Homo sapiens: one gene and its partners. The protein of the gene in region 1 interacts with the protein of each later gene in a pairwise test. Each region holds a gene or a part of one and is shown in the gene's direction. Other genes may lie near its edges.

The links.
Region 2: the proteins of ZBTB8A (region 1) and KIF5B interact in binary tests that used the Homo sapiens proteins (3 or more experiments, as listed by UniProt).
Region 3: the proteins of ZBTB8A (region 1) and AP1M1 interact in binary tests that used the Homo sapiens proteins (3 or more experiments, as listed by UniProt).
Region 4: the proteins of ZBTB8A (region 1) and ZNF35 interact in binary tests that used the Homo sapiens proteins (3 or more experiments, as listed by UniProt).
Region 5: the proteins of ZBTB8A (region 1) and ZBTB48 interact in binary tests that used the Homo sapiens proteins (3 or more experiments, as listed by UniProt).
Region 6: the proteins of ZBTB8A (region 1) and DDX6 interact in binary tests that used the Homo sapiens proteins (3 or more experiments, as listed by UniProt).
Region 7: the proteins of ZBTB8A (region 1) and ZBTB24 interact in binary tests that used the Homo sapiens proteins (3 or more experiments, as listed by UniProt).

Annotation. Positions count from the first base shown.
Region 1 is NC_000001.11:32,594,927-32,598,426, forward strand, and holds part of ZBTB8A (zinc finger and BTB domain-containing protein 8A), read left to right. Parts: intron 1-127; coding exon 128-297; intron 298-3,500. UniProt on the Homo sapiens protein: May be involved in transcriptional regulation.
Region 2 is NC_000010.11:32,018,426-32,021,925, reverse strand, and holds part of KIF5B (kinesin-1 heavy chain), read left to right. Parts: intron 1-638; coding exon 639-700; intron 701-794; coding exon 795-904; intron 905-1,526; exon of another isoform or gene 1,527-1,966; coding exon 1,967-2,068; exon of another isoform or gene 2,069-3,363; coding exon 3,364-3,424; exon of another isoform or gene 3,425-3,500. UniProt on the Homo sapiens protein: Microtubule-dependent motor required for normal distribution of mitochondria and lysosomes. Can induce formation of neurite-like membrane protrusions in non-neuronal cells in a ZFYVE27-dependent manner.
Region 3 is NC_000019.10:16,242,911-16,246,406, forward strand, and holds the end of AP1M1 (AP-1 complex subunit mu-1), read left to right. Parts: 3' UTR 1-2,996; downstream 2,997-3,496. UniProt on the Homo sapiens protein: Subunit of clathrin-associated adaptor protein complex 1 that plays a role in protein sorting in the trans-Golgi network (TGN) and endosomes.
Region 4 is NC_000003.12:44,658,732-44,661,291, forward strand, and holds the end of ZNF35 (zinc finger protein 35), read left to right. Parts: coding exon 1-1,216; 3' UTR 1,217-2,060; downstream 2,061-2,560. UniProt on the Homo sapiens protein: May be involved in transcriptional regulation. Involved in cell differentiation and/or proliferation.
Region 5 is NC_000001.11:6,582,994-6,586,386, forward strand, and holds part of ZBTB48 (zinc finger and BTB domain-containing protein 48), read left to right. Parts: intron 1-2,925; coding exon 2,926-3,037; intron 3,038-3,393. UniProt on the Homo sapiens protein: Plays a critical role in transcriptional regulation and chromatin remodeling. Acts as a regulator of telomere length. Directly binds the telomeric double-stranded 5'-TTAGGG-3' repeat.
Region 6 is NC_000011.10:118,756,665-118,760,164, reverse strand, and holds part of DDX6 (probable ATP-dependent RNA helicase DDX6), read left to right. Parts: intron 1-120; coding exon 121-243; intron 244-1,262; coding exon 1,263-1,391; intron 1,392-2,877; coding exon 2,878-2,994; intron 2,995-3,500.
Region 7 is NC_000006.12:109,473,220-109,476,719, reverse strand, and holds part of ZBTB24 (zinc finger and BTB domain-containing protein 24), read left to right. Parts: intron 1-461; coding exon 462-545; intron 546-1,237; coding exon 1,238-1,321; intron 1,322-3,500. UniProt on the Homo sapiens protein: May be involved in BMP2-induced transcription.

The DNA of each region.
Region 1 (3,500 bases):
TTTTTATTTCTTTTTTTTTAAGTTTATTTTTTTCTTTCCTTGTTTCCATTGGGCTTGGATTGGATTCTTTCTGTTATTAGAATTGTTATGAACTTTCCAGTGATTTAATCAAAGCGTCTCTTGACAGATGATCTGCCTCGGATGCGATTCAAGTGCCCGTACTGCACACATGTGGTGAAGCGGAAGGCAGACCTAAAGCGCCACCTTCGTTGTCATACAGGAGAAAGGCCCTATCCATGTCAAGCTTGTGGAAAAAGATTTAGCAGGCTAGACCATCTAAGTAGCCATTTTCGAACAGTATGTATGATTTTTTTTCATCGTTTTACTAATTCTTTTTTGGTTTTTGTTTTTGTTTTTTTGAGATGGAGTTTCACTCTTGTTGCCAGGCTGGAGTACAATGGTGTAATCTCAGCTCGCTGCAACCTCTGCCTCCCGGGTTCAAGCAATTCTCCTGCCTCAGCCTCCCAAGTAGTTGGGATACAGGTGTGTGCCACCACGCCTGGCTAATTTTTGTATTTTTAGTAGAGATGGGGTTTCACCACATTGGCCTGGCTGGTCTCAAACACCCAACCTCAGGTGATTCACCTGCCTCAGCCTCCCAAAAGTGCTGGGATTACAGGCATGAGCCACCACGCCCGGCCTTGTTTTGTTTTTTTTTTTTGAGACAGGGTCTCTCTCTATCGCCCAAGCTGGAGTGCAGTGGTGCCATCTCAGCTCACTGCAGCTTTTGTTTTTTTTTTTGAGACAGGGTCTCTCTCTATCGCCCAAGCTGGAGTGCAGTGGTGCCATCTCAGCTCACTGCAGCCGCGACTTCTCAGGCTCAAATTATCCTCCCGCCTCAGCCTCCTGAGTAGCTGGGACTACAGGCCTGCACCAACATGCCAGGCTAATTTTTGTATTTTTATATTTTTTGTAGAGATGGGGTTTCATCATGTTGCCCAGGCTGGTCTTGAACTCCTGGGGTCAAGTGATCCACCTGCCTCAGCCTCCCAAAATGCTGGGGTTACAGGCGTGAGCCACAGTACCTGGCCCATCATTTTACTTCTTAAGAAATATGTACAGTTGGCCAGGCACAGTGGCTCACACACGTAATCCCAGCACTTCGGGAGGCCAAGGCGGGCAGATTGCTTGAGGCCAGTTCAGTTCAAGACCAGCCTGGTTGGCTGGGCGCGGTGGCTCACGCCTGTAATCCCAGCACTTTGGGAGGCCGAGGCAGGCGGATCATGAGGTCAGGAGATCGAGACCATCCTGGCTAACATGGTGAAACCCCGTCTCTACTAAAAATACAAAAAAATTAGCCAGGCGTGGTGGCGGGCGCCTGCAATCCCAGCTACTCAGGAGGCTGAGGCAGGAGAATGGTGTGAACCTGGGAGGCGGAGCTTGCAGTGAGCCGAGATTGCATCACTGCACTCCAGCCTGGGCGACTGAGCGAGACTCCATCTCAAAAAAAAAAAAAAGACCAGCCTGGCTAACATGGTGAAACCCCATCCACCAAAAATACAAAAATTAGCTGGCATGGTAGCGCACACCTATAATCCCAGCTACTCAGGAGGCTGAGGCACGAGAATTGCCCAAACCCAGGAAGTGGAGGTTACAGTGAGCTGAGATCGCGCCACTGCACTCCAGCCTGAATGACAGAGTGAGACACTGTCTAAAACAAAAAACAAACAAAAAAAATACATTTATGGGCTTTAGGATCATCTCATTTGCTGAGGGAAATGTTTTCACACAACTCTACCATATTTAAAATTCTTCCAACTTAGTGTTTTTACTTTGCACGTAAAGCATAATTATGTATATTGATTTTTAATCTCCTTCAAGACCTTGAAGTGGGGTATATTCTTTTGATGGTAAATAGTTTTATATTTCCATTTTAATTCACTTAGTCTAATATGTTTTTATATACTGGTCTGTTCAGAGCCAAAGATAATATAAACTGTATAAATGCTTTAAGTGTCTAGGTCAGAATCACCACTGTAGATACTCAGCATCTACCAGTGATTACTGAATCCTTGTCTGGTAGGATTTCAGTCTAGTTGCGGCTGTCCAACCAAAGGAGGTCTCCACTACACCTGCTTTCTTTTTTCTTTTTTTTTTTGAGACAGAGTCTCGCTCTGTTGCCCAGGCTGGAGTGTAATGGCGTGATCTTGCCCCACTGCAACCTCTGCCTCCCAGGTTCAAACAATTCTCCTGTCTCAGCCTCCCGAGTAGCTGGGACTACAGGTGCCCACCTAGTTTTTGTATTTTTAGTAGAGATGGGGTTTCACCATGTTGGCCAGGCTGGTCTTGAATTCCTGACCTCAAGTGATCCATCCACCTCGGCCTCCCAAAGTACTGGGATTACAGGCGTGAGCCACCACGTCTGCTGGTCTTATATTTTTAGATATCATATGGTCTCAGGAATTTGAGGAATTGTATTGGTTTATTATGTTTGGATCCACAATTATTATTCCTTTTGACACTCAAATTTTTAGTTTTATCCAGTGAACAGTCTCTACCTTGATGCTGGCTCTTGTCTCCTTTTGTCACAACTCCATTAAATTTTGAAAGTGTCCTTGTTCTCTGGCTCCAAAAGAGGCCTAGACTCACTTTGTACTTTCCCTACCACAGAGCTGGAATCAGCCATTTCTCAATCCATTTCCTTTAGTGGAAAGTGAAATTAGAGCCCAAAGTCTGGGCAGTCATTGTTACGGAGGTGTCATTTCTTTTACACTATTTCAGTGGATAGAGTTAGAAGATACATATTTTGGAGGGATGGACATGAATCTGTATCAGAGCTTGTAACAAAAACAATACCACATTTGATACCCATAGTTTTGTTTGTTTGTTTGTTTGTTTTTTGAGACAGAGTCTCGTTCTGTCATCCAGGCTGGAGTGCAGTGGCACGATCTCAGCTTACCACAACCTCCACCTGCTGGGTTCAAGTGATTCTCCTGCCTTGGCCTCCCGAGTAGCTGGGATTACAAGCACATATCCGGCTAATTTTTTTTTTTTTTTTTGTATTTTTAGTAGAGATGGGGTTTCACCATGTTGGCCAGGCTGGTCTTGAACTCCTGGCCTCAAGTGATCCACCCACCTCCACTTCCCAAAGTGCTGGGATTACAGATGTGAGCTACTACGCCCAGCCTAATACGCATAATATTACTATCTCAGGAGAAATCAGAATTCATTCAAATCATGTACTTTTAATGTTTACTGATTAATATGTCAACAGTTACACACAGGATAATAACTGTACTAGTGGTAATTCCATACATTTTCCTACATATTTTACCAGACTGTATTAGCTTTCTTGGATTTTTTTTTTTTTTTTTTTTTTTTTTTGAGATGAAGTCTCACTGTGTCATCTAAGCTGGAGTGCAGTGGCACAATCTCAGCTCACTGCAACCTCCGCCTCCCGGGCTCAAGTGATTCTCCTGCCTCAGCCTCCCGTGTAGCTGGGATTACAGGCGTGTGCCACCATGCCCAGCTAAGTTTTGTATTTTTTTTTAGTAAAGATG
Region 2 (3,500 bases), on another chromosome or scaffold:
ATCTTGACTCACTGCAACCTCCACCTCCTGGGTTCCAGTGATTCTCCTGCTGCAGCCTCCCTAGTAGCTAGGACCACAGGCACATGCCCCCACGCCTGGCTAATTTTTTACCTTTTTTGTAGAGACAGGGCTTCACCGTGTTACGCAGGATGGTCTTGATCTCCTGACCTCGTGATCTGCCTGCCTTGGCCTCCCAAAGTGCTGGGATTACAGGCATGAGCCACTGTGCCTGTCAAAACATATATATATATATTTTTAAGATTTTGTTTGAATATGGAAATAGCCAATCTGGGGATTTCCCACAGTTACGAAGCGGGGTGTGTGTGTGTGTGTGTCTTAACATAGGGGACTTAGGAGTTATCTCATTTCTTTACCATTCCCTTAACTAATCTGTTCTGGATTAGGCCAAAAAAAAAAAAACCAAACAAACCATAAAGGAATACATAATACCAACACAATGGATGTAACTTGTATACTAGTCTACATGTCATTGAACTTGGAGAGCAGGTGACATTTGGGTAATTTGAAGTTGAATATTGCTAAGGAAAATGCTTATTGTAAAATCCATTTGCTCCTTGGTTTATATGAGGAACCTTAAAGGCTTATTTCACTCTTCTATTTTCTCTCTATTCAAACAGAGAAAGTCCATGAAATGGAAAAGGAGCACTTAAATAAGGTTCAGACTGCAAATGAAGTTAAGGCAAGTTTGATGTCACATTTCTAACAGCTTTAATTAATCAGTATTAATTTTGATTAGTCTGACTTTAACATCCTTTTCCCCCCCAAAATTTTAGCAAGCTGTTGAACAGCAGATCCAGAGCCATAGAGAAACTCATCAAAAACAGATCAGTAGTTTGAGAGATGAAGTAGAAGCAAAAGCAAAACTTATTACTGATCTTCAAGAGTAAGTATTATACTTCTCTAGTTAGGAGGAAAGAATCGGTTACTGATGGTCATGGTATATATTCTTATTAGAAACCTGCAGTTTTCATCAAAATTACATTTTTATCTTGGAAAATAAAGAATTTTCTCATTTATGAGTAAAACTTCTAAATTCCAGGTGAAATTTTTGAGGCTTTTTTTTAGGTCTTTTGATCTAAATTATTCAGTAAAAGAAAAAAATCCCCAACCTAAGTCTATTATTGCATACCACAGTCTTCTCCAAATCCTTTATTTAGTTTCCTTTTTTAAAAAAATTCTTGGCTGGGTGCAGTGGCTGATGGCCTGTGACCCCAGTGCTTTGGGAGGCTGGGGTGGGAGGATCACTAGAAGTCAGGAGTTCAAGACCAGCTGGGCAACATAGTGAGACTCCATCTCTACAAAAAATAATTTTTTAAATTAGCTGAGCTTGGTGGCACATGCCTGTAGTCCCAGTGACCCAGGAGGCTGTGGCACGAGGATTGCTTGAGTATTGGAATCTGAGGCTGAAGTGAGCTATGATTGTACTACAGCCTGGGTGACAGAGCGAGACCCTGACTCAAAATTCTTAACTGGGAAAAACTTTTCTGGAAATTCTATGGATTTTCAAAGGTTTTTTTTTTTTTAAGTTGTCATCTTAGTTTATCTAGAAGCAATTTCCCTGCCTCCATAACCATGTGCACATACATAGAGTTTATGGAAGTCAGAGTTTGCAACAATTTGAGTAGGAACCAAGAAGAGAATAACATAACAAAATAATGATGAGGTTTGGGGCGTAGGTCTTACTATGAATACCTGATGGAAGTAGGCATAAGGATTCAGGAAGATGAAAGACAGAGGAGAACAGAATCATGATTTCAAACCAAAATACGAAAAATTTTGTATGTCCACAAGTAGCCAGGTCCCTTTCCTCTTTTCCTCCATAGGGTATAGGATAACAGAAAAGTCCTTGATGAGATTATAGAATTTAAAAGTTTGGAAATTTTAATGATGACATTGAGAAAACTGTGATATTGATACTGTGTTAATTATTTTTTTCTTTCGTCAGCCAAAACCAGAAAATGATGTTAGAGCAGGAACGTCTAAGAGTAGAACATGAGAAGTTGAAAGCCACAGATCAGGAAAAGAGCAGAAAACTACATGAACTTACGTGAGTAATTGTTTTTAATTAAAGTTTAAAAATAAAAGCTAAATTAGAGGATTATAGGCATTACCTTTGGATATAGCCAGTGGATACATATTTTACTTTGTATGGGCTAAAGGATTTTTTCTTAAATCCACTGAGTTGGTTTGATTTATATCTAAATACTTGGAATATATACTTGCATTTGAGTGAAAGCAAGGTCTTATATTTCATTGTGGTTAAGATTAAGGTTTCTCTTTATTAATCTGCTTGCTGTTTCTTTATCTCCATATTACTTCAGGATCCAGCATAAAAATGAACCTAAAACAATATATTAAGTAACTTCGAAGATTTTAAGATCTAACACAAAAACTGAGTTTTTGTTAAATTTTCTCTTGCATAAAAGAGCATTGTGGTGTTTAGCCTTGCCATTTTGAACAGAGGTTTTCATGGTTTACCTTTTCTCATTTTCTCAAAACTCAGTTTTCTAGAATCTTAGCAGGTAGAAAGTGCATGATTATAATTTTTCACATACCTTGAGTTTGTGAGACAATTTGCAAATCAACTGATATTGTTAGGATAGTTAGAACATCAGGACCAGTTCAGAGTGGATTATATGAAGATTCTGCTAACTTGCAGCTGTAATTTTGTTTAGAATACTTGTAATGTAAAATATTTTAGTCTTTGACAGTTTATAATCTATAATTAATCAGTATCATTTTGGATAAATAGCAGTATAATACATGTGGCATATTTTAAAATATAAATTATAGAACTATTCCTTATTCTTTGAATTCTGCCACATTTTATTTCATCTCTTCCATTGCTATATATGGAATGTATAACAATAGACTGTTGTTTAGAAGGCATATGAAAATTTTTTGAAATTGCAAAGCTGCAGTGGCTCACACCCATAATCTCAGCACTTTGGGAGGCCAGGGCAGGAGAATCAGTTGAGCCCAGTGTTTGAGAATCAGCCTAGGCAATATAGTGAGACCCCGTCTCTACAAAAATTTTTTTAGACAGGGCTGATTGTACATGCCTGTAGTCCCAGCTATTTGGGAGACGAGGTGAGGAGGATCACTTGAGCCCAGGAGGTTGAGGTTGCAGTGAGCAGTGTTTGGGACAGAAACTCTGTGTCAAAAAAAAAAAAATTTTTTTTTTGAAAGACAGCACAGGTAAATTGTTTAAAATAGGCATCTTGTATTTATTTAAATTTAAGAATTTATCCTTTCAGACACAAAATATTTTATTCAACTCTCATGCTAAGTACAATATACAGAATAAAATTTGAAAATATATGTTTGTTCTTCTACTGTTAGGGTTATGCAAGATAGACGAGAACAAGCAAGACAAGACTTGAAGGGTTTGGAAGAGACAGTGGTAAGAAAAACATGAAAATAAACAGGATTGGGAAATATTTTGTGGGTTTTTTCTACCATGATTATTCTAAATTTAA
Region 3 (3,496 bases), on another chromosome or scaffold:
GCTTGGCTAAATTTTTTTATTTTTGTATTTTTTTTATTTTTAGTAGAGACAGGGTTTTGCCATGTTGGCCAGGCTGGTCTTGAACCCTGACCTCAGGTGATCCACCCCCACTGGCCTCCCAAAGTGCTAGTGGCAGGTGTGAGCCACCACACACGGCCAGAATAGACTTTAAAGCAAGAAAGCAAAAGAAAAAATGTATTAGATCCCCGAGAAGTTTCCACACAACTCCAAGAATTATTATTAGAGTTCCCACTCTCTGAGGAATTTTCAAGAGAAATTAGTTAGAATTCAACAAGAAATAAATTACTTTAAAATATTTCCAAATATGAGAGGTTTTTTTTGTTTTTGTTTTTGTTTTTGTTTTTGTTTTTGTTTTGAGAAAGGGTCTCTGTTGCCCAGGCTGGAGTGCAGTCAGTGGCACGATGTCAGCTCACTGCAACCTTGGCCTCCTAGGCTGAAATAGTCCTCCCATCTCAGTCTCACAAGTAGCTGGGATTACAGGTGAGCACCACCAAGCTCAGCTATTTTTTTTTTTTTTTTGTATTTTTAGTAGAGATGGAGTTTTGCCATGTTGCCCAGGCTGGTCTTGCACTTGGGCTCAAGTGATCCACCTGCCTCAGCCTCCACAGTGCTGGAATTACAGGTGTGAGTCACCATGCCCAGCCAATATGAGAGATTTTAAAGCACATTTTTCAATCACCATGTGTCAAAGAAGAAAATATAATGGAAGTTAGAAAATATTAGAGAATGGCCAGGTGCAGTGGCTCATGTCTATAATCCCAGCACTTTAGGAGGCTGAAGCAGGTGAATCACTTGAGCTCAGGAGTTCGAGACCAGCCTGGCCAACATGGCGAAAATCCATCTCTACTAAAAATACAAAAATTAACCAGGTGTAGTGGCACACGCCTGTAAATCCCAGCTACTCAGGAGGCTGAGGCCCAAGAATGGCTTGAACCCTGGAGGCAGAGGTTGCAGTGAGCTGAGATTGTGCCACTGCACTCCAGCCTGGGCAACGAAACGAGAGTCTGTCTCCAAATAAATAATTAGAGAATATTTTTCAATCTGGATGCAGGTGACATGGGTGTGCTCTCGAGAATCCATCAAGCATTGATGATTTGCACACTCTTTTGTGTATATGTTACACTTCAGCAAAAACATTCACAAAGGGGAAAAAGGCAAAAGATACTTAAAGCAGCCAGAGGTAAAGACACATCACCTTCAGACATGACAACCAGACAGACAGACAGCTGGCTTTTCAAAGGAACCCAGAAAACAGTTGGGTGACATTTTCAACATGCTAAAAGAAAACCACTAACCCAAATCAGAGACCCAGCAAAAGTATTTCAAGAATGAGGTTACAGTAAAAACATTTTGCAGACAAATAACGAAAGAGTTTGCCAGCAGCAGGCTAACACTAAAGAAAATTGTAAACAGTGTACTCACATCAGGCACAAGGAAAGTGATCTCAGACGGAAGGGCATGATGCAAGAAGAAATAAAAGCAAAGAAGTAGAAAATACATGAGAAAATCTAGACAAAGATTGCATAAACAGTTTCTGGAGTTTTTTTAAGTGATAGAATTATACAACAGGAAAAAAAGTCTGCAGGGAGTAAACTGAGTTAAAATGTTCCAAGTTAATGACTGTCTGGGAGGAGAATAAATAACATGGATACACTTTGGGAGGCCGAGGCGGGCGGATCACGAGGTCAGGAGATCGAGACCATCCTGGCTAACACGGTGAAACCCCGTCTCTACTAAAAATACAAAAAATTAGCCGGGCGCGGTGGCGGGCGCCTGTAGTCCCAGCTACTCCGGAGGCTGAGGCAGGAGAATGGCGTGAACCCGGGAAGCGGAGCTTGCAGTGAGCCGAGATTGCGCCACTGCAGTCCGCAGTCCGGCCTGGGCGACAGAGCGAGACTCCGTCTCAAAATAAATAAATAAATAAATAAATAACATGGATAAAATTTGTTGTTTGTTGTTGTTGTTGTTGTTGTTGTTGTTGTTGAGACGGAGTTTCGCTCTTGTTGCCCAGGCTGGAGTGCAATGGCGCGGTCTTTGCTCACTGCAACCTCTGCATCCCGGGTTCAAGCTATTCTCCTGCCTCAGCCTCCTGAGTAGCTGGGATTACACGATGCGCCACCAGGCCTGCCTAACTTTGTATTTTTGGTAGAGGCGGGGTTTCTCCATGTTGGTCAGGCTGGTCTCAAACTCCCGACCTCAGGTGATCCGCCCGCCTCGGCCTCCCAAAGTGCTGGGATTACAGGCATGAGCCACTGCGCCCAGCCAAATCTGCATTTTGATAAGTATGCATTTTACTATCTAAGGGAGCTAAAACATTTTTATTATTTTAGCACTGTAACTTTGCTTTTCTTCTTTGTTTTGTTTTTTTGAGACAGAGTCTCACTCTGTCGCCCAGGCTGGAGTGCAGTGGCGTGATCTCAGCTCACTGCAACCTCCACCTCCTGGGTTCAAGCAATTCTCCTGCCTCAGCCTCCTGAGTAGCCAGGATTACAGGTGCACGCCACCACACCCAGCTAATTTATGTAATTTTATAGAGTTGTGGTTTCACCATATTGGCCAAGCTGGTCTAGAACTCCTGGCCTCAAGTGATCCACCTGCCTCGGCCTCCCAAAGTGCGGGGAGACCAGAATTCCACCCAGAATGACCTCTCTGTTCCTAGGAGTGTGACAGCATTTGGGGGGGAAAATAGCGTAGAGTTGGAATTTTTAAAATTCAGTTTGACAAAATGACTTTTAGCTGGAGCATTAAGTCCCTTTACATTTAATGTAATAACTGATATTACATTTAAGTATAAATTTAAATCTACCGTCTTACTTTGTTTTCTATTTTTGTCCTTTCTATGTTCTCTTTTATGTCCTCTCTGGATTTATTACAGATTGTTTGTGGCTTTTAAAAAAAGTCATTGCTTGAATGATGAGAGCTTATATTTAAAAAGGCAGGGGGCTAAAATAAATAAATAATTTAAAAAATAAAAATAAAGTCATTGTTTTCCTTTGAATGTTTGAGAGTTACAATTCTAGGCTGGGCGAGGTGGCTCAAGCCTGTAATCCCAGCGCTTTGGGAGGCCAGCCCAGGTGGATCACCTGAAGTCAGCATCGTGAAACCCCATCTCTACTAAAAATACAAAAATTAGCCGGGCACAGCGGCATGTGCCTGTAATCCCAGCTACTCGGGAGGCTGAGGCAGGAGAATCACTCGAACCTGGGAGGCGGAGGTTTCAGTGAACCAAGATCTCACCATTTCACTCTAGCCTGGGCAACAAGAGCAAAACTCCATCTCAAAAAGAAAGAAATATATATGAGTAGATATTAAATGTGTACACATATATACATATATAAAGGCTAAAATAATGATCTAAGCCTCCATCTCAAGAAGTTAGAAAAAGAACAACAAAATAAATGTAAGAGCACAGAAAGAAGGAAATAATAGGGAGTAGATACAAAGAAAATGGAAAAGAAACACTCAATAAAGAAAA
Region 4 (2,560 bases), on another chromosome or scaffold:
TCCAAAAACTGAGATATGTGAGGAAGCTGAAAAACCCCTCATCATATCAGAAAGAATCCAGAAAGCTGATCCTCAAGGACCTGAGTTAGGAGAAGCTTGTGAAAAGGGAAACATGTTAAAGAGGCAGAGAATAAAGAGAGAAAAGAAAGATTTCAGACAAGTGATAGTGAATGACTGTCACTTACCTGAAAGCTTCAAAGAAGAGGAAAACCAGAAATGTAAGAAATCTGGAGGAAAATATAGCCTTAATTCTGGCGCTGTTAAAAATCCAAAAACCCAGCTTGGACAAAAGCCTTTTACGTGTAGCGTGTGTGGGAAAGGATTTAGTCAGAGTGCAAACCTCGTTGTGCATCAGCGAATCCACACTGGAGAGAAACCCTTTGAATGTCATGAGTGTGGGAAGGCCTTCATTCAGAGTGCAAACCTCGTTGTGCATCAGAGAATCCACACTGGACAGAAACCTTATGTTTGCTCAAAATGTGGGAAAGCCTTCACTCAGAGTTCAAATCTGACTGTACATCAAAAAATCCACTCCTTAGAAAAAACTTTTAAGTGCAATGAATGTGAGAAAGCCTTTAGTTACAGCTCACAACTTGCTCGGCACCAGAAAGTCCACATTACGGAAAAATGCTATGAATGTAATGAATGTGGGAAAACATTTACTAGGAGCTCAAACCTCATTGTCCACCAGAGGATCCACACTGGGGAGAAGCCCTTTGCCTGTAACGACTGTGGCAAAGCCTTTACCCAGAGTGCAAATCTTATTGTACATCAGCGAAGCCATACTGGTGAGAAGCCATATGAGTGTAAAGAGTGTGGGAAAGCCTTTAGTTGTTTTTCACACCTTATTGTGCACCAGAGAATTCACACTGCAGAGAAACCTTACGACTGCAGCGAATGTGGGAAAGCCTTCAGTCAGCTCTCTTGCCTTATTGTCCACCAGAGAATTCACAGTGGAGATCTTCCTTACGTGTGTAATGAATGTGGGAAGGCCTTCACATGTAGCTCATACCTACTTATTCATCAGAGAATTCATAATGGAGAAAAACCTTACACATGTAATGAGTGTGGGAAGGCCTTCAGACAGAGGTCGAGCCTCACCGTGCACCAGAGAACCCACACTGGGGAGAAGCCCTATGAATGTGAGAAGTGTGGTGCAGCTTTCATTTCCAACTCACACCTCATGCGACACCATAGAACCCATCTTGTTGAATAACAAGTAAGGAAGAGGAAGACCTCCAGCATTGGTCATAACCTTCTGCCTCCCTAATGAGACACCTCTTTGCTGTTTTCTTCCTCCTCTATAAAAGTGAGGGCTGTGTCCTTAAAAGTTATAGTTTTCAGGAATGCAGCAGAAGACACAAGAAAAGCATTTCAGAGGCTAATTTAAAACAAAAAGTAAGCACCTAAAGGCAAGGACTTTGTTTTAACTGTACCTTAAGCGGTCATGTTCTCTGAAGTGGAATGTGGCTTTCCTAGGAATGGGTCGTACAAAGCTAAGTGGTAATGATGCTATTTGGGGAAAGGTCTTTTTTGCTTAATTTTGTTTTTTAAAACTCTGATGATTGCTTGAGCAACAGGCAGGTTATCTGCCTGGTTGAATTCTGGTTGAACCGTGTATTCTAATATTTCTGGTTAAGTGGTGACTGGGTAAGGAAACCACTTGGGGTAGCAGTTCAACAATTCACTTACGAATGTTTATAAGCTTTCCATTTCCTAGGTAATTTTTTAAAAGCCAGTCAAAACAAAAACTTTACTGAAAATGGACAGAAATAGGAAATGGACTTTTTCCTTACTGTCTATACCTCCTGAACCTTGGTATTGTAAAGATCTGGGGACCTCTGGGTCTGTTCTGACCATTCCCTAGTCTCCATGGCCAAGCACTCAAGGATTGATGGACACCACACACCAGCTATATTCATTTGCCAAGATCAACAGCTCCTTCTCCAAACAACTCAAGCCCCCAATTCCCATCGCATTCCATTTGGGTGAGATGCAACTAACAGCCCCTTCCTGGATGAAGGAGTCAAAGAATAAAGCTTGCCTAGAGGCATGCCCCAGTTGTCTCTGCTGTCATTCTGCTCAAGTCCAGCCAGGGGTCTCAGTTTGGGTTTCATTCTCACATTCTGGATGGTGTTTAGAAGAAATAGTGGAGCTCTTCTCATTCTGAGAAGACCAAAGAGGGAAAGTGATGGGAGAGGGGAGGTGGAAATAAGATTCCTAAGGTCTTAATTTGATTTTTTGAGAAATTCAGAGGTATTGGAATATGAAAAACTTTTAGAAGGATGAAGAAACTGGCCAAGGTAAGATATCTTTGTTACCATTCAGCCTTTACTCCTGGAAAAATGATTTATAAAACTATGCAATAGGTAGAGTTATGTAATAATATTGCCTTGTATTTATATAGAACTTTTATTCTTTGTTGTGTACCCTTATGTATTGATCATGATACCTGGCACGTATCTCACGCTTTCACATAGATCACCTACCTCAGTCCTTACAACACTGAAACAGGTGGTTGCCCATTTACCTGAGAATGGTCATTTAGTGCAAGGCCAAG
Region 5 (3,393 bases), about 26 Mb from region 1:
GTTTGTTTTTGTTTTTGAGTTGGAGTCTTGCTCTGTCACCAGGCTAGAGTGCAGTAGCGTGATCTCAGCTCAGTGCAACCTCTGCCTCCTGGGTTCAAGTGATTCCTCTGCTTCAGCCTCCCAAATAGCTGGGATTACAGGCACATGCCACCACACCCGGCTAATTTTTTGTATTTTAGTAGAGACGGGGTTTCACCATGATGGCCATGATGGTCTCAATCTCCTGACCTTGTGATCCACCCGCCTTGGCCTCCCAAAGTGCTGGGATTACAGGTGTGAGCCACCATGCTCAGCCTATGTTGTTTTTCATTTTATTTTATTTTTTTGAGACGGAGTCTCACTCTGTTGCCAGGCTGGAGTGCAGTGGCATGAGATCGGCTCACTGCAACCTCCGCCTCCTGGGTTCAAGCGATTCTCCTGTCTCAGCCTCCCGAGTAGCTGGGATTACAGGTGCCTGCCACCACGCCTGGCTAATATTTGTATTTTTAGTAGAGATGGGGCTTCACTATCTTGGCCAGGCTGGTCTTGAACTCCTGACCTTGTGATCCACCTGCCTCGGCCTCCCAAAGTGCTGGGACTACAGGCATGAGCCACTGCGCCCAGCCTGTTATTTTTTTTTTTTTTTTTGAGACAGTCTCACTGTGTCGCCCAGGTTGGAGTGCAGTGGCATGATCTTGGCTCACTGCAACTTCTGTCTCCCAGGTTTAAGCGATTCTCCTGCCTCAGCCTCCTCAGTAGCTGGGACTACAGGTGCGCACCACTACGCCCAGCTAATTGTTTTACTTTTTTTTTTTTTTTTTTTTGAGATGGAGTCTCCCCTCTGTCGCCCAGGCTGGAGTGTGGTGGCTCCGTCTAAGCTCACTACAACCTCTGCCTCCCAGGTTCAAGCGATTCTCCTGCCTCAGCCTCCTGAGTAGCTGGGATTACAGGCACGCGCCACCACACCTGGCTAATTTTTTTGTGTGTGTTTAGTAGAGACAGGGTTTCAGCATGTTGGTCAGGCTGGTTTCGAACTCCTGACCTTGTGATCCACCTGCCTCAGCCTCCCAAAGTGCTGGGATTACAGGCGTGAGCCACCGTGCCCAGCCATTTTTTTACTTTTTAGTAGTGATGGGTTTCACCATATTGGCCAGGCTGATCTCAAACTCCTGACCTTGCGATCCACCTGCCTTAGCTTCCCAAAGTGCTGGGATTACAGGCGAGAGCCACCGTGCCCAGCCCCCAGGGACTATTTTAACTTAAAATTTAAAATTAAATAAAAATTCAGTTCCTCAGATACGTTAGCCAAATCTGAAGTGGTGAGGAACCACGTGTCTCCTGGTGGCTGAATCGGGCAGTGCTGACATAGCACATTTCCATCATCGTGGAGAATCCCCTTGGGCGGCACTGCTTTGGAGTCCCTGCAAGGCCTGTGGGGATGGCGGCCCAGTGGCATGCCTTCCAGTCCTGCCACTCCCAGCCAAGACATCACTAGTCTATCATGGTGTGTTTTCTTGCCATGCCAGGTTGGGCGGCACACTAGTAATCACCTAGAATGGGAGCCAGGGGGAAACCCGTTCGCTGTCCCTGTGCACCGTGTTCAGGGCAGCTGCTGCCAGTGGAATGCTGGGATAACCCCAGTGTCGGGGGTCCTGGGGCAGCCTGTGTACTGCTGGATGCTTGCTTTCAAGTACTCTGCTGGGGTAAGACTCTGGGGCAGTTTCCATCCCTTCCTTGGGCTTCAGCTTGCTGGACTGGCCCTGAGAACTGGGAGGGGATGGCTTCATGAAGTCATTTTGATGGGGGATGAAGATAGTTGCTGTAGAGGAAGAGGATGAGAGAGCTGCTTGGCCTCTGGAAGGTGGGAGGAGCTGTCGCAGGCTGCACAGGGGCTCTGAGGTCGAGTTCGTTTAGTTCATTGATTAAGCAGTCTACCAGGTGGCCAGCAAGGCTTTGTGGGTGCTTGGGATGCATTTAAGGGAACTAAACAAAGGTGCTTGTGCAGCCGACCTGCTTGCCAGGCAATGCAGATAACAGATAAGTCCATCTGCCTGCAGTAGACGGTGAGGAAGTGCTGCCGAAGAAGAAAAAGCAGAGGCGGGCCAAGGGGTTGGGGAGTTGTGAGTGGGGTTCGATTGCGATTTTAAGTAGCCAGGGTCTCTAGAGTCTTACTGAGAAGGTGAGATTTAAGCAAAGACTCAAAGGAGGTGAGGAAGTTGACCAAGTGGGTGACTGGGGAGCATCTGGGCAGAGAGAAGAGCCAGGGCGCTGGGGTAGGAGGATCCTGGGGGCGTGACAGGCAGCAAGGAGGCACATGCCTGATCCAGGTGGCCAGACGACACCCTGGGAGAGAAGCAGGCAAGGGGAGGGCTGCCTGCGCCTTGATAGGCCTCCCGGGCCCTTTCTCTGAATGGGGAAGCACTGGGGATACGTGAGCCAAGAGGTACTGAGGTCTGACTTAAAGGTCCTTCTGGCTCCTGAACTGAAACCTGTGGGGGAGGCAGTCACGGAGCGGGGAGACCAGATGGGCAGCTCCCCTGGCTACCTGGGAGAAGCTGTTGCCAGCCTTGGTGGGCCAGTGGAGTCAGGTGAGGATCTGGCCATGGGTTTGAAGCTCTGGGAAGACTGAGTTGCTTCTCCAATAGTCAGGACCCAAGATCTGTTTCTGCCTTCAGACAGAATGCGGTCAGCTGGGCCTCCCTGTCGGCCTCTGTGCTGGCCAGATCCATGGCAGCCTCTTAGGACCTGTGTGAGCTTCTTGCCACTGCACTCTCCCTTGCAGAGTCTCCATGCTGGGGGAGGCTTCTGGGCTTGTCCCTGCACCTTAACCAGCCGGTGTCACCTGAGAACACTTGTTCCCCTTAGAAGGGACCCAGAGGGGGCCCTGGGTGAGGGAGAGATGGGAAACCCTCTCAGCCCCCCCACCCCTGTGGCTTCTCCTGGCAGGAAACATACTGGGGAGAAACCCTTTGAGTGTCCCAAATGTGGGAAGTGTTACTTTCGGAAGGAGAACCTCCTGGAGCATGAAGCCCGGAATTGCATGAACCGCTCGGAACAGGTACTTGGGAGCTGGCCCAGGTACTTGTGGGCAGGGCACACTGGCCTCTCTGTCTTCGTGCCATCCGGGAAGGGCCCCAGGAGACTGTCTGAGAGGGGTACTGTAAACTCAGGAAAGCTGTGGGGTCCTTGGATGTCATGAGGTCCATGCCCTGGTACAGGTGGGGACACAGGTCCTGAGGGCGGAAGGGACAGGCATAGGAGGGACTCTGTGGGAGGCATTTGGGGTTGGCTTTCCTAGGCCCCTGGCCCACCTCCACCTTGGCTTTGGAGAAGGGGAGCCGCTACAGGGGATGGCAGCTGGGAAAGGCCCCCTGGCCACCCCCAGCAACCCCACTGCTGGCTTCTGTGTCAGGG
Region 6 (3,500 bases), on another chromosome or scaffold:
CCACCAGGAACATTTCATGGATGCTTTTGTTGGATGATGCCTTATTCTTTGACCATGTATTAACCAAGACCTTAGACATTATTTTATTGTTTTTAAAATTGTCTTTTCTTTCTACTGCAGGCAGATAAGTTGCTGTCACAGGATTTTGTGCAGATAATGGAGGATATTATTCTCACGCTACCTAAAAACAGGCAGATTTTACTATATTCCGCTACTTTCCCTCTTAGTGTACAGAAGTTCATGGTGAGTATAAATCTGTACTTGGAATCAGTGCCATCCTGTGACCTTTGAGTATGCTTTTATTTGTAATTACATCTTCATATCTGTGAATATACTTTATGCTAATTATTTCAAGCCTTTGGCTCTTTCTTCAGTTGATCAATTAAAGATTTGTTTTACGTAAATTAACTGACTTTTTAAGAAGGTTGTAATAGTAACTTAATTAAATTCCTCATCTTTCACTTAGTTTTTGGTGTCATGATGACATAGCCATTGGTGCTAGCTGAATTGATTCCGGTATTATTCTATATACAAAACAGAGCTTGAGTATCCTAAACTGAAATCCAAAATACTGCAGAATTTGAAACCTTTTGAGCCACGAACATGATGCTAAAAGGAAATGTTCTTTGGATTTTGAATTTTCAAATTAAGGATGCTCAGTCACTAAGTGTAATGCACATATTCCAAAATTAGAAAAAATTTAAAACCTGAAACACTTCTGTTCCTAAGCATTTTGGGTAAGGAATACTCAACCTGTAGTAACTTAGCTGCATTTTTGAGATCTTATATCTTAATTTATTTCTATCGGGTCGGGCATGGTGGCTCATGCCTGTAATCCCAGCACTTTGGGGGGCCGAGGCGGGCAGATCACAAGGTCAGGAGTTCGAGACCAGCCTGGGCAACATGGTGAAACCCCGTCTCTACTAAAAATACAAAAATTAGTCTGTTATGGCAGTGCATGCCTGCATTCCCAGCTACTCGGGAGGCCGAGGCAGGAGAATCACTTGAACCCGGGAGGTGGAGGTTGCAGGGAGCAGAGATCGTGCCACTACACTCCAGCCTGGGTGACAGAGCAAGATTTTGTCTCAGGGTGGCAGGGGGGAAATTCTGTAATGACAGATCATATATTTTGTTTTGAAGAGAGTTGCGTCCCTTACAGCAAGAGTTTATCGGACAGAAACGTATAGGGTATATTTTGAATTTGAGATGAACTCTGCTTTCATTTAAGACGACGACTCATCTTTTTCCCGCTCCCCCCCCAGAATTCCCATTTGCAGAAACCCTATGAGATTAACCTGATGGAGGAACTAACTCTGAAGGGAGTAACCCAGTACTACGCATATGTAACTGAGCGCCAAAAAGTACACTGCCTCAACACACTTTTCTCCAGGGTAAGAAGTAGGCTTCTGCTGTTGAATATTATCTCTCGAGTCCCAGTAAAACAGATGATTTCATCAATTTTCCCACCGTCTTCACTGTATAAAAGTTCGTAGTGTTTCTGGCTTGGCACGGTGGCTCATGCCTCCCAGCACTTTGGAGGCTGAGGCAGGCAGATCACGAGGTCAGGAGTTTGAGACCAGCCTGGCCAACATGGTGAAACCCCATCTCTACTACAAAATACAAAAAAATTGGGCATGGTGGCGTGTGCCCATAATCCCAGCTACTTGGGAGGCCGAGGCAGGAGAATTGCTTGAACCCAGGAGGCGGAGGCTGCAGTGAGCTGAGATTGCACCATTGCACTCCAGCTCTGGGCGACAGAGCAAGACTCCGTCTTGGGAAGAAAAAAAAAAAGATTAAAAAATAATTCATAGTGTTTCCTAAAAGGCAGGTTTAGTTGTTGACCTAAAGTTGATACTAAATGATTAACCAAGTCACAGATACACTTTTGAATAGTTTCTGAAATACTTTGACCTTAACTAGGGTTAATCCTCATTATTCACATATTCTGTATTTGTGAATTTGCTTAGTCACTAGAATTTATTTGTAACTCCGGAATTAATACTCAAGGTAGTTCAGCAGTCATTTGTGGACGTGTACAGTGTGGCAAAGAGTTTAAGTCACCTGACATGCACATTCCCAGCTGAGGTCGAAGAAAGCAATCTCTGTCCTCTTGTTTAGCTCTCATACTGTGAACAAGGGTCCTTTTCACAGTCTGCCATGTTTTTCAAGTTTTTGTTGCTGATTTCACAGTTTTAATTGGCCCCTACACATGGTGCTGAAGTGCTGCCCAATGCTGGTGGCATTGGTTGTGAGTATATTAAAGAAGGTATTCTTGGCTGGGCACAGTAGCTCATACCTGTAATCCCAGCACTTTGGGAAGCCGAAGTGGGCAGATCACCTGAGGTCAAGAGTTCAAGACCAGCCTGACCAACAGGCTGAAACCCTGTCTCTACTAAAAATACAAAAGTTAGCCAGGCATTGTGGTGGGTGCCTGTAATCCCAGCTACTCAAGAGGCTGAGGCTGGAGAATTGTTTGAACCCAGGAGGCAGCTGTTGCAGTGAGCTGAGATTGCACCATTGCACTCCAGCCTGGACAACAAGAGTGAAACTCCATTTCACAAAAAAAAAATAAAATAAAATATTTTTAAATGGAAACACATAAAACATAACTACTTTGAATCAGATAATCAATTGTATTACTCTTGTTGACAGTTATGTGGCCCTTAAGAAATATACTCTAATACGGTAAATCTTAGATATTATTATCTTCCATCTATTATTTACAATTTTTACAATTTACCATCTCTCTCATATCATGAGATTCTAAGTTTTAGACCATGTTAATGTTTCTTTTTTGCTGGTTCGTGTTTTCAAGATTTGGCAAACCAAATGAAGGTTTTTTTTATTTTTCTCATACTTATTTTTTTCTGTGCTCAGCTTCAGATAAACCAGTCGATCATTTTCTGTAACTCCTCTCAGCGAGTTGAATTGCTAGCCAAGAAGATTTCTCAACTGGGTTATTCTTGCTTCTATATTCATGCTAAAATGAGGCAGGTGAGTATAAAACTAGAACTTGCACAAATTTAATAAGAAATCTCTTTCTTTATTTTGTTTTAATGTTCTTTTAAATGTCCTGAGTTTAAGAATAAACTGTTCCTTAGTAGCCAAAGGACCTTTCATTTTGACCTCCCTCAGGTTCAATTTTCTAGCAATAAAATAGGGATAATAGTACATATTCATAACTTACAAGGTTGTTAGGAAAATTAAGATAAATGTTTAAATGAGTACTTTGGAAGCTGTCAGGCATGATACAAATGTAAAATTTTATTCTTCCCTTCCTTTCCATGTTTAATTCTCTGTTTAATACAGTAAATAGCCACATGTGGCAATTTAAATCAGTTAAAATTAAAATAAAAAGTCAGTTTCTCAATCACAGCCACATTTCAAGTGCTCAGTTAGGCACCTGTTGCTACTGGATAGTGTATTGGAATTGGAAGTACAGACACAAATATTTCCTTTATTATAGAAGTTTTACTGGACAGCACTGCTCTGGATTTTTA
Region 7 (3,500 bases), on another chromosome or scaffold:
TCCCCAGGGTGGGCATTACCAACACCTAAATGGTGTTTTCTCAGCCTAGTATCATTTCCAACGTGGTGTCATTGAAAGACAGGATTTTGCATCTGTCTGAGTGCAGTTTAGAGTTCTGCACGGATCATTAAACTAGAGCTTATAAACTGGCTGCTGGGAGTTTAGTGTGCAAGCATGTTTTATTAAACCACCAAAGTTTAGAATTGTTTTACTTTGAACGCCTTTCGGGGAAACTTAAATTCTCCAGTTCTACCCCAGTCTCCAGTACTCCCGATTGCCTTACATACCTTTGCACATTTATGTTTCTGTGGTAGATTGAAGGCTTCTGGGTATGTAAACAAGTCGCTTGTATCATTTGTAGAAAATGGGGACCTGGACCCACTGTAGTATTTACCTTATTAGTGAGCATTCCAGTTCTTTATAATTTTTTACATGTTTTAGTGTTTTGGTTTTTTTGGCAGGACAGAAGTCTTTTACCTGTGATCAATGCGGAAAATATTTCAGCCAGAACAGACAGCTAAAGAGCCATTACCGAGTTCATACAGGTACGATAAAGTGAGAACATTTAGATTGGGGGGGAAGAAATGCAAATAAGAATTGTTTCTGAAACATTAGGTTTATATTGTTCTGCTCTTAGCACATATCGTTCACATAGGGTATTTAGGGAAAAGTGCCTTAAGAGTCTAAATTACATGTTTTTATGTTATTGTCCGCCACCATGTGAATTATGTTTTATTTGTATACTACAGTTTTGGTGCCACACACAGAAACCCTACAGAATTGGCATCTTTCAAAAGTGCCACTTGCACAGGGGAGCTTCAGTGAATGGTTGTTAGTGGTGCCTGGGCAGAGACATCATCATCCCATGGCTGTCAGCCCAGGCTTTCTCTCCCCTGGTTCTACCTGTTGTCCTTTTTCTTTCCTGCCAACTGATAAGAAATGAATGTGGGTTACGAGTGTCATTTGAGGTCATTTGTGGCCTCAGTCACACCAATACTTTGAGGAAAAAAGGAGAGACTACATTTAGAATTGGAAGGATCCTAGCTCTCTTGGAGGAGGCAGTGAGTTGAGGTGCTTAGGAAAATATTAACAGTTACCAAATTAATGAAAAAATTTTTGTGGTTAAAGTACTATATTTAAAGTGATTATTTTTCAGGGAAGTGCTTTAACACAAATCACTGAAGAAAAGGCAGGGAGAGCATGTATGCACTGACACTTTTTTTATTGTTGCGACAAGGCCACTCATTACCGGAATGCAAAGACTGCCATCGCAAATTCATGGATGTGTCTCAGCTAAAGAAACATCTGCGAACACACACAGGTAAAACTCCATCTCGTCTGTCCCCCCAGTACACGGGATGTTTTCAGGAGAGTGAAGAATGAAGTTCTCTGAGTGCCCTGCTAAGCCTGTGTTTGGAAATGTTTATTATAAATTGGATGGGAGTTGTGTAAGAAGATAAGTTAAAAGTTGGAAGGCAGAATGTTGTCAGCACTGTCTTTGGGGAAATCACATCTCTTGTAGATGAGCAAAATGGAGATCACTTACTGAGGACTATTCGTATGTCACAATTCATTTAATACCACAGAATAGTGAGTCTGAGTCTGGTTCTATGTTTCACTCTTAATTTACTTCAGCATTGAAGGTGATATCAAGACTTTTTTTTTTTTTTTTTTTTAAAGATAAGGGCTTGTGCTGTCATCCAGGCTAGAGTGTAGTGGCACGATCACAGCTCACCACAGCCTTGACCTCCTGGGCTGAGGTGATCGTCCCACCTCAGCCTCCTGGGTAGCTGGGACCACAGGTGCAAACCACCACACTACCTAATTTTTTATTTTTTAATTTTTGTAGAGATGGGTCCCACTATGTTGCCCAGGCTGGTCTTGAACTCCTGGGCTCAAGCAGTCTTCCTGTCTGAGCCTCCCAAAATGCTGAGATGACAGGCATGAGCCACCATACCCAGCAAGATAAATTTTTTTTTTTTTTTTTGAGACGGAGTCTCGCTCTGTTGCCAGGCTGCAGTGCAGTGGCACGATCTTGGCTCACTGCAACCTCTGCCTCCCGGGTTCAAGTGATTCTCCTGCCTCAGCCTCCCTAGTAGCTGGGACTATAGGTGTGCGCTACCATGCCCAGCTAATTTTTTTTGTATTTTTAGTAGAGATGGGGTTTTACCATGTTGGCCAGGATGGTCTCGATCTCTTGACCTTGTGATCTGCCCACCTTGGCCTCCCAAAGTGCTGGGATTACAGGCGTGAGCCACTGTGCCTGGCCCAAGATTATTTTTTTAGAAAAGACAGCCAAATGTAACAGACACAAATGTAGCATAGACACTGAGAATGTTTCCACTTTCTCCCCTAGAACCAACACTTAAACTTAAGCAGCACCACCTCCAGAAAAATCAGTTTCAGAGATGACGAGGAGGCAGCATTGATTAGGGCAGGTCAGTTTTTTTATGTAAGATCGGAAAATTGGATCTTTTATACCTTTTGTCAAAGAATGTATGTTAAAAATAAGCCTATTCAGTTTTCTAAGAAAAACTTGCCATTACAGGTTATTTAATAATTCTGTTGTCTACTGGAATTATCTAAATAGCAAATTGATTTATGGTGCTTTGGACTTTTTTTTTTTTTTTTTTTGGAGTCACTGTCTCTGTCGCCCAGGCTGTTGTGCAGTGGTGCTATCTTGGCTCACTGTAACCTCTGCCTGCTGGGTTCAAGCAATTCTCCTGCTTCATCCTCCCGAGTAGCTGGAACTACAGGTGCGCACCACCACGCCTGGCTAATTTTTGTGTTTTTTTTTTGTAGAGACAGGGTTTTGGCATGTTAGCCAGGCTGGTCTCGCTCAAACTCCTGGCTCAAGTGATCCACCCTCCCAGCCTCCCAAAGCGCTGGGATTACAGGCGTGAGCCACTGTGCCTGGCCTGGATGTTGTTTTTTAAATACAAGTTTTTCTTCTTAAATTCAGTAAACATCTCATAGGATATGGATTTTAACACATGTACTGAGCACTTACTGGGAACCAGACATTGTTTTAGGCTTTGAGGATACAGCAGTGAATGAGATGGACAGGCCCCTGCCTTAAGGGGCCAACATTCAATAGGGAAGACAGAGTACAGACAAGTATATAACACATTTGGTGTTGTGAGTGCGTTGAAGAATAAAATGCAAGGTAAGGGGGCGGGATGCCGGAAAGAGAGTTGCTCTTTTATGCATGGACTGGTTTGGGAAGGTCTCACAGATGAGGTGGCATCTTGGATGGAGATGAGAATGCAGTGGGGGAGTGAGCCAGCCGGCCATTGAAGATGTCCAGGAGAGAGCATTCTAGGCAGGGGGAGCCCTGGGCACAGGGCCCTCAGGCAGGAATAAATGTTTTTGACAAGCTGGAGACGTGCTGGGAGGAGCATCAAGGCAGCCAGAGAGCTGGGAGTAGGAAGTCATAGTGTAGGTGGATGTTCTCAATTTAGCTGCATGCTTTTTACCACCTGGGAAGCTTTAAAAAAAAG